Regions from separate parts of the Homo sapiens genome. Here regions 2 and 3 are each linked to region 1. Evidence: fine-mapped expression QTL. A gene starts in region 1. Each other region holds a variant in brackets. All regions are shown on one strand. Distances are between the middles of the regions. Region 1 holds the start of GZMH (granzyme H). Region 2 has its middle 18 kb from the start of CMA1. Region 3 has its middle 15 kb from the start of GZMB.

Region 1 (4,244 bases):
GCCATTACAGCAACTCATGACAGAATAACCCTGAACCCAGGAAGGAGAAGATAACACCTAATTCCAATGCCTGCAACATCCTGGCTAAACAGAGGTCCTGAGTGTGTCCACATGAAAACTTCACTGCTAGCATAACCAGCATTCAAGAAACCCAGCACACTACACATATCTACAACCAAGGACTCTCACAGAGTCTACTTCACTCCCCTTCCACCTCCACCAGAGCAGGTAATGGTATCCATGGCTGGGAGACCTGAAGAGAGATCACATCACAGGACTCTTTGCAGACATTCCCCAGCACCAGCTGGAACCTGGTAGCGCCACTGGGAGGCTAGACCCAGAAAAGCAGTAACAGCCAATGCAGTCCAGTGGTCAGAAAGTCCCATCCCTAGGGGAAGGGGGAGAGCACCACATCAAAGGATCACCCCATGGGATAATAGAATCTGAACAGCAGGACTTGAGTTCCAGACCTTTCCACTGAAATAGTCTACCCAAATGATAAGGAACTAGAAAGGTAATTCTGGTAATATGATAAAACAGAGTTCTATATCACCTCCAAAAGATCACACTAGCTCCCCAGCAATGGATCCAAACCAAGAAGAAATCTCTGAATTGCCAGATAAACAATCCAGAAGATCATTAAGCTACTCAAGGAGATACCAGAGAAAGGTGAAAAAACAACTTTAAAAATTAAAAAATATATATATACATAAATATAGGATATGGGTGAAAAATTCCCCAGAGAAATAGATATCATAAAGAAAAAATAATCACAACTTCTGGAAATGAAAGCCATGCTTAGAGAAATACAAAATCCACTGGAAAGTTTCAACACTAGACTAGAACAAGCGGAAGAAAAAACTTCAGAGCGCAAAGACAATGCTTTCAAATTAACCCAATCAAACAAAGACTAAGAAAAAATAATTTTTAAAAAATGAACAAAGCCTCCAAGAAATGTGGGATTATGTTAAACAGTCAAACCTAAGAATAATTGGTGTTCCTGAGGAAGAAGAGAAATCTAAAAGCTTGAAAACCTTATTTGAGGAAATAATTGAAGAAAACTCCCCTGTCCTTGCTAGATACCTAGACATCCAAATACAAGAAGCTCAAAGAACACCTGGAAAATTCATCACAAAAAAGTCTATCACCTAAAGTCCTATCCCAGTTCTGTTAAAGTAATAGCAGGAATAGCACCTTATAAATACCTAGAAAAATAGTAGAAGGAAACATGCTTAAGCATTAATAATGATCTCCGGTGGTAGAATTTTTGGTAAGTTTAATTTTATCATTTACATGTTCCTACTTAACTATACATATATATTTATATATATTCATATACATAAATATACAAACATATGTATATATACACATTTTTGTTTATGGACAGCCTATGACTGTGAGCCAAGGGACATCAGAGACATGGCTCTCTGGAAACTGAGAGAATACTTAGTGGACAGTTTTTTGTTTGTTTGTTTGTTTGTTTTTGAGATGGAGTCTCGCTCTGTCACCCAGGCTGGAGTGCAGTGGCGCGATCTCAGCTCACTGCAAGCTCCACCTGGGTTGACGCCATTCTCCTGCCTCCGCCTCCCAAGTAGCTGGAACTACAGGAGCCCGCCACCACGCCCGGCTAATTTTTTGTATTTTTAGTAGAGATGGGGTTTCACCATGTTAACCAGGATGGTCTCGATCTCCTGACCTCGTGATCCACCCGTCTTGGCCTCCCAAAGTGCTAGGATTACAGGCATGAGCCACCGCGCCCGGCCTTAGTGAACAATTATTATCAGGATGATCAGCATCCATTTTTCCATCACCTGGCAACAACAACTAGCATTTCTCAAGGGAAATCCCCTCCTCATTCATAAGCACCATAGATGGAGTGGAACAGTCCCCACCTCAGCTTAAGGAGGGCTAAATAACCAAAGCATAAAGCAATCAGTCCACTACACTTCAGTGGACCCAATGATGACTCATTTTGGTTCAATAAATATCAAGTCCAGAACTTTTGTGCAGAACTGTGGAATAAAAAAAGTTATCTTTGTCACAGAATATTTATATTTAAAGAGGGGATTCTAAATATCCCAAAAATATGAATCTGAGATAGTGGTAAGATAGGAATGGGTTGCCATTTGCAGTATTTGTTGGGTGTGTGCAACTCTGCATACTGCTAAGGCAAGTCCAGCCTCCGTCTCACACCAACAGGCAGATTTCCCCACCACGGCCCTTACCATCTTGTGCTCTAACCCCAGATTTTCAGTCTACTCTTGCTAACCATCAATTCTTCAAGGGCAAGAGCCATGTCTCTCATATCCCTGGATCTGGCTTGCTAAATAATTATTCATGATTTTATCTGAGTAGAAAAAGAGCCAAGAACTGAGAAAAGGAGACATTCTTGGTTCTCAGTCACTGAGGAGCTTCTGCAGTACCAGCCTTTCTGCTAGCTGCAGCCACAGCTTCAACAGCTCCACCTCCTTGTTCTTTATTCTTGCTTTCACCTTGTTACTCAGCAGCAGGGGTGTAAATGTGACAGTGCCATGTCAACTTAAACCAAACCAGATAATTTTAATAAACCACCTTCTATAATGACACCCATCAAAACCAGAAGGGGACAAGTCTAGGAGGTCTCTGAGTTTACTGTACCCATCCCTCCTTCATCTCCCTCCAGCATTTGTTTCTGGAAGGAGTCAACACCAACAGCTCTGACCTGGGCAGCCTTCCTGAGAAAATGCAGCCATTCCTCCTCCTGTTGGCCTTTCTTCTGACCCCTGGGGCTGGGACAGGTAAGTGACTATCCCTATTCCAGAGGCCTGAACCCATCTTATAAGATACCCTGTACCCATGAGCACTGGTCAGGAATTTTCCTCAATCTGAGCCCACCTCCCATTCCACACCCAGACTTATAAATCTGAGGCTAGATAGACACTCAGCAAAGATCGAAAAATGAAGGGTGTTCCCTAAAAGGTTTAATGGGTGTTAGCCTCTCCCTAGACCTCTCCTTTATGACCTGGAGTGTGGATTGTTCTTAGAAAGGCATTTGGTAGGGAATGTGAAGCTAAAAAAGATAAGTAATTATTACTCTACACTCCAACCCAGGAAAGAGGAGCTCAGACACCAAGTTGCAGTCATAGGAGTTGTTACTGGACTCAGCTTAAGAACCACTTATTCAGTGCCCCCACCCAGTCACCCCTGCCAGGAGGGAAGCCCATGGTGCAACTGATCTCAGAGATGGCAAGATGACTGTGTCCATAGCTCTCCCATTACCTTGGCTCCACCTGGGCTTTGCGATTCATTTTTAGTTGATTTCTCCACTTCCTTCTGCCTTTGCAGGCCCTCAGCTACTCCACTGACCTGGTGATAACCCCCTCTAACATCCCTGAGGTCCTGAATCCCACCAGCACTACCCCCACTAAACCTCAGCCAAAGGCTAATTGGAGGCTATTCATTTATGCACCAAACAACACTTACTGAGAACCTAGAATGTGTTCAGCCCTGGCACATGAGAATTTTAGAAAATCCAACTCCAGAAGCTCATGGGTAGATCATTAGAAAATGGCACCAATCAGGAGGACAGCAGAGGCTCAGAGGAATCAGAGAGACTCACTAAAAAGGAGGAGCCTGGGAAGTCCTGTCCAGGATCCTCTGGGGCTCTACCACTGTGAAAATAGATCTTTCTTCCTCCATGTGTGTTTCTGCAGTAGGATGCAGAAGTCAAGCACTGTCCATTCTTTCTGAGAGAAGGTTCTGAGACTTAAAGTTCAGAAAAGCTTGCTCTGCCTGCAAGGAGTACTGCCTGCAGAGCTCAGGAGGACCCCTCCCTCACTGTCTGCAGCACACAAAACACTTCACCCTCAATCACTGTCGTCCTAAGCCTTCTCTCCTGACTGCAGCCATCCCCAGCTACTTTATCTTCCAGTCTTTCCTTTCAGAGGAGATCATCGGGGGCCATGAGGCCAAGCCCCACTCCCGCCCCTACATGGCCTTTGTTCAGTTTCTGCAAGAGAAGAGTCGGAAGAGGTGTGGCGGCATCCTAGTGAGAAAGGACTTTGTGCTGACAGCTGCTCACTGCCAGGGAAGGTAAGGAGCAGCACCAGCTCACCTCCTGAGTTCCCCCTACAGGGACCCTTGTTTTCTCCTGGGGACTGCAGCCCAGGGGAGCTTCCAGAGTTCCTGGTAACACAAGCCCATGAAAGCTCATCGGAGCAGCCACCTGGGAATAGGACTAAGATGATGAAAGGCTGAGAAATAGG
Region 2 (4,244 bases), 84 kb after region 1:
TGTAGTTGAGCGGTTTTGAGTGAGTTTCTTAATCCTGAGTTCTAGTTTGATTGCACTGTGGTCTGAGAGACAGTTTGTTATAATTTCTGTTCTTTTACATTTGCTGAGGAGAGCTTTACTTCCAACTATGTGGTCAATTTTGGAATAGGTGTGGTGTGGTGCTGAAAAAATGTATATTCTGTTGATTTGGGGTGGAGAGTTCTGTAGATGTCTATTAGGTCTGCTTGGTGCAGAGCTGAGTTCAATTCCTGGATATCCTTGTTAACTTTCTGTCTCGTTGGTCTGTCTAATGTTGACAGTGGGGTGTTAAAGTCTCCCATTATTCTTGTGGGGGAGTCTAAGTCTCTTTGTAGGTCACTCAGGACTTGCTTTATGAATCTGGGTGCTCCTGTATTGGGTCCATATATATTTAGGATAGTTAGCTCTTCTTGTTGAATTGATCCCTTTACCATTATGTAATGGCCTTCTTTGTCTCTTTTGATCTTTGTTGCTTTAAAGTCTGTTTTATCATAGACTAGGATTGCAACCCCTGCCTTTTTTTTGTTTTCCATTTGCTTGGTAGATCTTCCTCCATCCTTTTATTTTGAGCCTATGTGTGTCTCTGCACGTGAGATGGGTTTCCTGAATAGAGCACACTGATGGGTATTGACTCCTTATCCAATTTCCCAGTCTGTGTCTTTTAACTGGAGCATTAGTCCATTTACATTTAAAGTTAATATTGTTATGTGTGAATTTGATCCCATCATTATGATGTTAGCTGGTCATTTTGCTCATTAGTTGATGTAGTTTCTTCCTAGCCTCGATGGTCTTTACAATTTGGCATGATTTTGCAGTGGCTGGTACCGGTTGTTCCTTTCCATGTTTAGTGCTTCCTTCAGGAGCTCTTTTAGGGCAGGCCTGGTGGTGACAAAATCTCTCAGCATTTGCTTGTCTGTAAAGGATTTTATTTCTCCACTTATGAAGCTTAGTTTGGCTGGATATGAAATTCTGGGTTGAAAATTCTTTTCTTTAAGAATGTTGAATATTGGCCCCCACTCTCTTCTGGCTTGTAGAGTTTCTGCTGAGAGATCCGCTGTTAGTCTGATGGGCTTCCCTTTGTGAGTAACCCGACCTTTCTCTCTGGCTGCCCTTAACATTTTTTCCTTCATTTCAACTTTGGTGAATCTGACAATTATGTGCCTTGGAGTTGCTCTTCTCAAGGAGTATCTTTGTGGCATTCTCTGTATTTCCTGAATCTGAAAGTTGGCCTGCCTTGCTAGATTGGGGAAGTTCTCCTGGATAATATCCTGCAGAGTGTTTTCCAACTTGGTTCCATTCTCCCTGTCACTTTCAGGTACACCAATCAGATGTAGATTTGGTCTTTTCACATAGTCCCATATTTCTTGGAGGCTTTGTTCATTTCTTTTTATTCTTTTTTCTATAAACTTCCCTTCTCGCTTCATTTCATTCATTTCATCTTCCGTCACTGGTACCCTTTCTTCCAGTTGATCGCATCAGCTCCTGAGGTTTCTGCATTCTTCACGTAGTTCTCGAGCCTTGGCTTTCAGCTCTATCAACTCCTTTAAGCACTTCTCTGTATTGGTTATTCTAGTTATACATTCGTCTAAATTTTTTTCAAAGTTTTTAACTTCTTTGCCTTTGGTTTGAATTTCCTCCTGTAGCTCGGAGTAGTTTGATCGTCTGAAGCCTTCTTCTCTCAACTCGTCAAAGTCATTCTCCATCCAGCTTTGTTCCATTGCTGGTGAGGAACTGCGCTCCTTTGGAGGAGGAGAGGTGCTCTGCTTTTTAGAGTTTCCAGTTTTTCTGCTCTGTTTTTTCCTCCTCTTTGTGGTTTTATCTACTTTTGGTCTTTGATGATGGTGATGTACAGATGGGTTTTTGGTGTGGATGTCCTTTCTGTTTGTTAGCTTTCCTTCTAACAGACAAGACCCTCAGC[T/G]GCAGGTCTGTTGGAGTTTGCTGGAGGTCCACTCCAGACCCTGTTTGCCTGGGTATCATCAGAACAGCAGATTTTTGTGAACCGCGAATGCTGCTGTCTGATCGTTCCTCTGGAAGTTTTGTCTCAGAGGAGTACCCGGCCGTGTGAGGTGTCAGTCTGCCCCTACTGCGGGGTGCCTCCCAGCTAGGCTGCTCAGGGGTCAGGGGTCAGGGACCCACTTGAGGAGGCAGTCTGCCCGTTCTCAGATCTCCAGCTGCTTGCTGGGAGGACCACTGCTCTCTTCAAAGCTGTCAGACAGGGACATTTAAGTCTGCAGAGGTTACTGCTGTCTTTTGTTTGTCTGTGCCCTGCCCCCAGAGGTGGAGCCTACAGAGGCAGGCAGGCCTCCTTGAGCTGTGGTGGGCTCCACCCAGTTCGAGCTTCCCAGCTGCCTTGTTTACCTAAGCAAGCCTGGGCAATGGCGGGCGCCCCTCCCCCAGCCTCGCTGCCACGTTGCAGTTTGATCTCAGACTGCTGTGCTAGCAATCAGTGAGACTCCATGGGCATAGGACCCTCTGAGCCATGTGCAGGATATAATCTCCTGGTGCACCATTTTTTAAGCCCGTAGGAAAAGCGCAGTATTCGGGTGGGAGTGACCCTATTTTCCAGGTGCCGTCTGTCACCCCTTTCTTTGACTAGGAAAGGGAACTCCCTGACCCCTTGCACTTCCCAAGTGAGGCAATGCCTCACCCTGCTTTGGTTCATGCACGGTGCACTGCCCCCACTGTCCTGCGCCCACTGTCTGGCACTGCCTAGTGAGATGAACTCGGTACCTCAGATGGAAATGCAGAAATCACCTGTCTTCTGTGTCGCTCAAGCTGGGAGCTGTATACCTGAGCTGTTCCTATTTGGCCATCTTGGCTCGACCTCAAGAAATTCTAATGTAAAATGAAATTCGAGTCTTAAAAGAGGAAGAAAGAGAATATAAAGCAGAAATAATATTTGAAGTTCTAAAGACCAAGAATTTTTCAAAGTGATAAAATATATCAAGCTACAGAATTTTTAAAGTATAAATTTTGAAAAGAAAAATGAAAAACACACCTTGCCATATTATAGTAAAATGTTGCAAACAATTTATTAAAGTAAAAAAGGAACAATAAGACTGGCACCTGGTTTCTTATTATAAAAACAATGGAAGCCATAAGATGATATAATGTACTTTAAGGTGCTGAACATATATGTATAAAGGGTTTTTTTTAAAATAGTTACCAACTTAGTATTCTATAGCTAAAGAATATAGTCTTTAATGCTAGAGGTGAAATAATAATATTTCCAAATAAACAGAAAACTGACAGAATTCTTTGCCAAAAAAACCACTAGAAAAATATTTATATAAAGTTATTCAAATTAATAAAATATTTTTAGCAAAATTACTCAAATGTAAGAATGAATCAAATGCAAAGAAAAGATAAATACATGAGTAAATCTAATAAATATTATCTATCTAAAGCAATAACAATAATGTCTTAGTAGGGTTTTAAATATGTGGCAATGATAACATAAGAGATTAAAGAGAACTAATTAAGTTAAAATCTTCTAATGTTCTTGAATTCTCCAGGAAGTGGAAAGAGTACTAACTTAAACTACATTTAATAAGTCAAGACTTTATTTTTTCATCTCCAGGGTAACTATTAAAAGAATTTAAAAAAACATATAACTAGCAAGCAGAAAGAGAAGCCAAATTAAATGATTAAGAAATTAATCCAAAAGAAGATAAGAATGGAAAGAAAAAGGACATATAACAGGTGAAACATAGAAAACAGGTAGTAAGGTGGTAGATTTTACATCAACTATTTCAATTACTACCTAAATAGAGTTGTGGTAAGAATTGAATGGCAGAGCATATGAAAAGCATTTAATGCAGTGACTAGTATAATGTATAGTAAGTGCTCAATGAATATTAGATATTATTTTTTAAAATGCACCCCAAAAATAATCTAATTAAAAGACAAAATGATCATATTGGATTGAAAAACAGCTATACACTACTTACAAGGAAAATGTCTTAAATATAATGATACAGAAAAGTTGAAAGTAAAAAGATGAAAAAATAGATTGTTTGAAAACCCTAACCAAAAAGTAAAGCTGATCTAACTTCACAAAGAAAACTTTAAAGACAGGAATATTACTAGAGATTTTAGAAGACATTTAATCATGTTAAAAAGTTAAATTCATTAAGAAGACATGATAATTCTAAACCATGTGCATCTAATAACATAACTTCAGAATATACAAAGCAGTAATCAACAAAACAAATTCTCAAACATAC
Region 3 (4,244 bases), 39 kb before region 1:
GTATTTGATTATGTTTATGTGATGAATCACATTTATTGACTTGAGTATGTTGAACCATCCCTACATCCCTGGGATGACATATCTTTTCGATTTTCTGTTGGATTTAGTTTGCTAATATTTTATTCAGAATTTTTACATGTATGTTAATCAGGGATATGGGTCTGTAGTTTTCTTTTTTTGTTGTTATGTCCTTTCCTGGCTTTGGTATCAGGATGATACTGGCTTCATAGAATAATTTGGGGTGATTCCCTCTTCTCAATCTTTTGGAATAGTTTCAGTAGGACTGGTACCAATTTTTCTTTGAATGGCTGGTAGAATTCAGCTGTGAATCCACTGGCTCTGAGTTTTTTGTTGTTGTTTTTGTTGTTCTTGGCAATTTTTTTATTACTGATTCTATTTCACCACTTGTTATTGGTCTGTTCAGAATTTCTGTTTCTTCCTGATTCAAGCTAGGAGGGTTGTATGTTTCCAGATATTTATCTATTTCCTCTAGACATGTACATAGAGGTGTTCATAGCAATCTCGAATGATCTTTTCTATTTCTGTGGTGTTGGTTGTAATGTCTCTATTTTCATTTCAAATTGAGCTTAGTTGAATCTTCACTCTTCTTTTCTTGGTTAGTCTAGCTAATGATCTATCGATTTTGTTTATCTTTTCAAAGAACCAACTTTTTGTTTCATTGACCTTTTGTATGGATTTTTGGCTTCAAATTTCATTTAGTTCTACTCTGATCTTTGCTATTGATTTTCTTCTTCTAGCTTTGGGTTTCATTTTTTCTTGTTTCTCTAGTTCCTTGAAGTGTAACATTTGGTTGTCAATTTGCTACTTTCAGACTTTTTGATAAAACCATTTAGTGCTATAACTTTCTTCTTAGCACTGCTTCTGCTGTATCCCACAGATTTTGATGAATTGTGTCACATTATCATTCATTTAAAATAATTTTTTAATTTCCATCTTGATTTCATTGTTAACCCCAAAATTATTTAGGAGAAGATTGTTTAATTTCCATGTATTTGTATAGTTTTGAGGGTTCCTTTTTGGAATTGATTTCTAGTTTTTATTCCAATGTGGTCTGAGAAGATACGTGATATGATTTTGATGGTTTTTAATTTATTGAGACATGTTTTGTGGCCTACTATATGGTCTATCTTAGAGGATGTTCCATGCGCTGATGAGAAGAATGTATATTCTGTAGCTCTTGGGGAAAATGTTCTGTAAATATCTGTTAGGTCCATTTGTTCTAGAGTGCAATTTAAGTCCAGTGTCTTTGGTTGACTTTCTGTCTTGATGTTCTGTCTAGTGCTATCAGTGGAGTGTTGAAGTCCCCCACTATTATTGTGTTGCTGTTATCTCTTTTCTTGGGTCTAGTAACAATTGTTTTATGAATGTGGGAGCTCCAGAATTAGGTGCATATATATTTAAGATGGTAATATCTTCTTGTTGGATTGATCCTTTTATCATTATATAATGACCTTCTTTGTCTTTTTTTTACTGTTGTTGTTTAAAAGTCTCTTTTATCTGATATAAGAATGGTTACTCCTGCTTAGTTTTGATTTTCATTTGCATGGAATATCTTTTTCCACCCCTTTGCCTTGAGT[C/T]TATAAGAATCCTTATGTGTTATATGTATCCCTGGAAAACAGAAGATATTTGGTTTGTAATTTTTTTATCCATTATGCCAATCCATATCTTTTAAGTAGAGCATTTAGACCATTTACTTTCAGTGTTAATATTGAGATGTGAAGTACTGTCCTCACCATCATATTGATTGTTACCTAGTTACTTTGTTTTCTTCATGGTGTTATTGTTTTTTGTTTTTTGTTTTTTACTTTAAGTTCTGGGATACACATCCAGAGCATGCAGATTTGTTACATAGGTATACATGTCCCATGGTGGTTTGCTGCACCCATCAATCTGTCATCTACATTAGGTATTTGTCCTAATGCTATCCCTCCCTTAGATCCCCACCCACTGACAGGCCCTGGTGTGTGATGCTCCCCTCCCTGTGTCCATGTGTTGCCATTGTTCAACTCCCACTTAAGTGTGAGAACATGTGGTATTTGGTTTTCTGTTCCTGTGTTAGTTCACTGAAAATGATGGTTTCCAGCTTCATCCATGTCCCTGCAAAGTACATGAACTCATCACTTTTTATGGCTGCATAGTATTCCATGGGGTATATGTGCCACATTTTCTTTATCCAGTCTATCTTTGATGGCATTTGGGTTGATTCCAAGTCTTTGCTATTGTGAATAGTGCTGCAATAAACATACATGTGCATGTCTTTACAGTAGAATGATTTATAATCCTTTGGGTGTATACCCAGTAATGGGATTGTTAGGTCAAATGGTATTTTTGGTTCTAGATCCTTGAGGAATCGCTGCACTGTCTTCCACAATGGTTGAACTACTTTACACTCCCACCAACAGTGTAAGAGCATTCCTATTTCTCCACATCCTCTCCAGCATCTGTTGTTTCCTGACTTTTTAATGATCACCATTCTAACTGGCATGAGATGTTATATCATTGTGGTTTTGATTTGCATTTTTCTAATGAACAGTGATGAGTTTTTTTTCATATGTTTGTTGGCCACTTAAATGTCTTCTTTTGAGAAGTGTCTGTTCATATCCTTTGCCCACTTTTTGATGGGGTTGTTTGTTTTTTTCTTGTAAATTTCTTTAAGTTCCTTGTAGATTCTGGATATTAGCCCTTTATCAGATGGATAGATAGCAAAAATTTTCTCCCATTCTGTAGGTTGCCTGTTCACTCTGATGATATTTAATAAATGATGTTGGGAAAACTGGCTAGCCATATGCAGAAAACTGAAACTGGACCACTTCCTTACACCTTATACAAAAATTAACTCAAGATGGATTAAAGACTTAAACGTAAGTCCTAAAACCATAATAACCCTAGAAGAAAACCTAGGCAATACCATTTAGGACATAGGCATGGGCAAAGACTTCATGACTAAACCACCACAAGCAATGGCAACAAAAGCCAAAATTGACAACTTGGATCTAATTAAACTAAAGAGCTTCTGCACAGCAAAAAAAACTGTCATCAGCGTGAACAGGTGTTATTGTTTTATAGACCCTGTGAGTTTTATACTTTCAAAAGGTTCTATTCTGGTGCATATCAACCTTTTGTTTCAAGATTTAGAATTCCTTTTAGCATTGCTTTTAGGGCTGGCCTTGTAGTAACAAATTCCCTTAGCATTTGCTTGTCTAAAAAATATTGTATTTCTCCTTTATTTATAAAACATAATTTTGCTGGATACAAAACTCTTGGCTGACAGTTATTCTGTTTAAGGAGGCTAAAGATAGGACCCCAGTCCCTTCTAGCTTGTAAGGTTTCTGCGGAGAAGTCTGATAGGCTTTCCTTTATAGGTTACCTGATGCCTTTTTCTCCCTGCTCTTAAAAATATTTCCTTCCCATTAAATTTAGATAGGCTGATGACTATATGCCTTTGTAATGTCCTTTTTGCAATAAATCTCCCAGAAGTTCTTTGGATTTCTTGTATTTGGATGACTAAATCTCTAGCAAGGCCATGGAAGTTTTCTTCAATTATTTCTTCGAATAAATTTCCCAAACTTTTTGCATTTTCTTCTCCCTCAGGGACACCAGCCATTCTTAGGTTTAGCCATTTTACATAATCCCATATTTATTGTAGACTTTGTTCATTTCTTTGAATTTTTTTATTTATTTTTGCCTGATTAGGTTAATTTTAAAGCCTTGTCTTTTAAATTTTTTCTTCTACTTGGTTTAGTCTATTGTTAAAACATTCCACTGTGTTTTGTAATTCCACTGCATTTTGTAATTCTCTAAATATATTTTTCATTTCTGGAAGTTCCAACTGGTTTTTCCTTAAAATATCTACCTCTTTAGAAAATTTTTCACTCATATTATAAATTGATATTCTCATTTCTTTATATTGTTTTTCACCTTTCTCTTGTATCTCCCTGAGTAACTTAATAATCAACCTTTTCAATTCTTTATCTAGTATTTCAAAGAATTTTTTTTTTGAAATGGAGTCTCACTCTGTCACCCAGGCTAGAGTGCAGTGGTGTGATCTCAGCTGACTGCAACCCCTGCCTCCCAGGTTCAAGCAATCCTCCTTACTCAGCCTCTCGAGTAGCTAGGACTACAGGTGCAAGCCACCATACCCGGCTAATTTTTCTTTCTTTTTTTTTTTTTTTTTTTTTGGATTTTTAGTAGAAATGGAGTCTCACCATGTTGGCCAGGCTGGT

What was found. PIP is the estimated chance that this variant, and not a neighbour inherited with it, causes the effect. A credible set is the group of variants that fine-mapping cannot tell apart.
Region 2: its variant is the best candidate, but not a certain one, in a credible set for the expression of GZMH in whole blood (INTERVAL, PIP 0.80).
Region 3: its variant is the best candidate, but not a certain one, in a credible set for the expression of GZMH in whole blood (INTERVAL, PIP 0.62).

The regions. Positions count from the first base shown.
Region 1 is chr14:24,608,092-24,612,335 of GRCh38, reverse strand. It overlaps GZMH (granzyme H), which reads left to right and starts at 2,651. Exons shown (of 5, transcript NM_033423.5): 1 at 2,651-2,777; 2 at 3,924-4,071. The coding sequence starts at 2,723.
Region 2 is chr14:24,524,550-24,528,793 of GRCh38, reverse strand. No RefSeq gene overlaps it. Among named protein-coding and RNA genes, the nearest start is that of CMA1, 18 kb to the right of the region's middle. RefSeq lists enhancers at 1,817-2,449, 2,450-3,084. The variant T/G (reference allele first, on the strand shown) is at 1,937.
Region 3 is chr14:24,646,845-24,651,088 of GRCh38, reverse strand. No RefSeq gene overlaps it. Among named protein-coding and RNA genes, the nearest start is that of GZMB, 15 kb to the right of the region's middle. The variant C/T (reference allele first, on the strand shown) is at 1,599.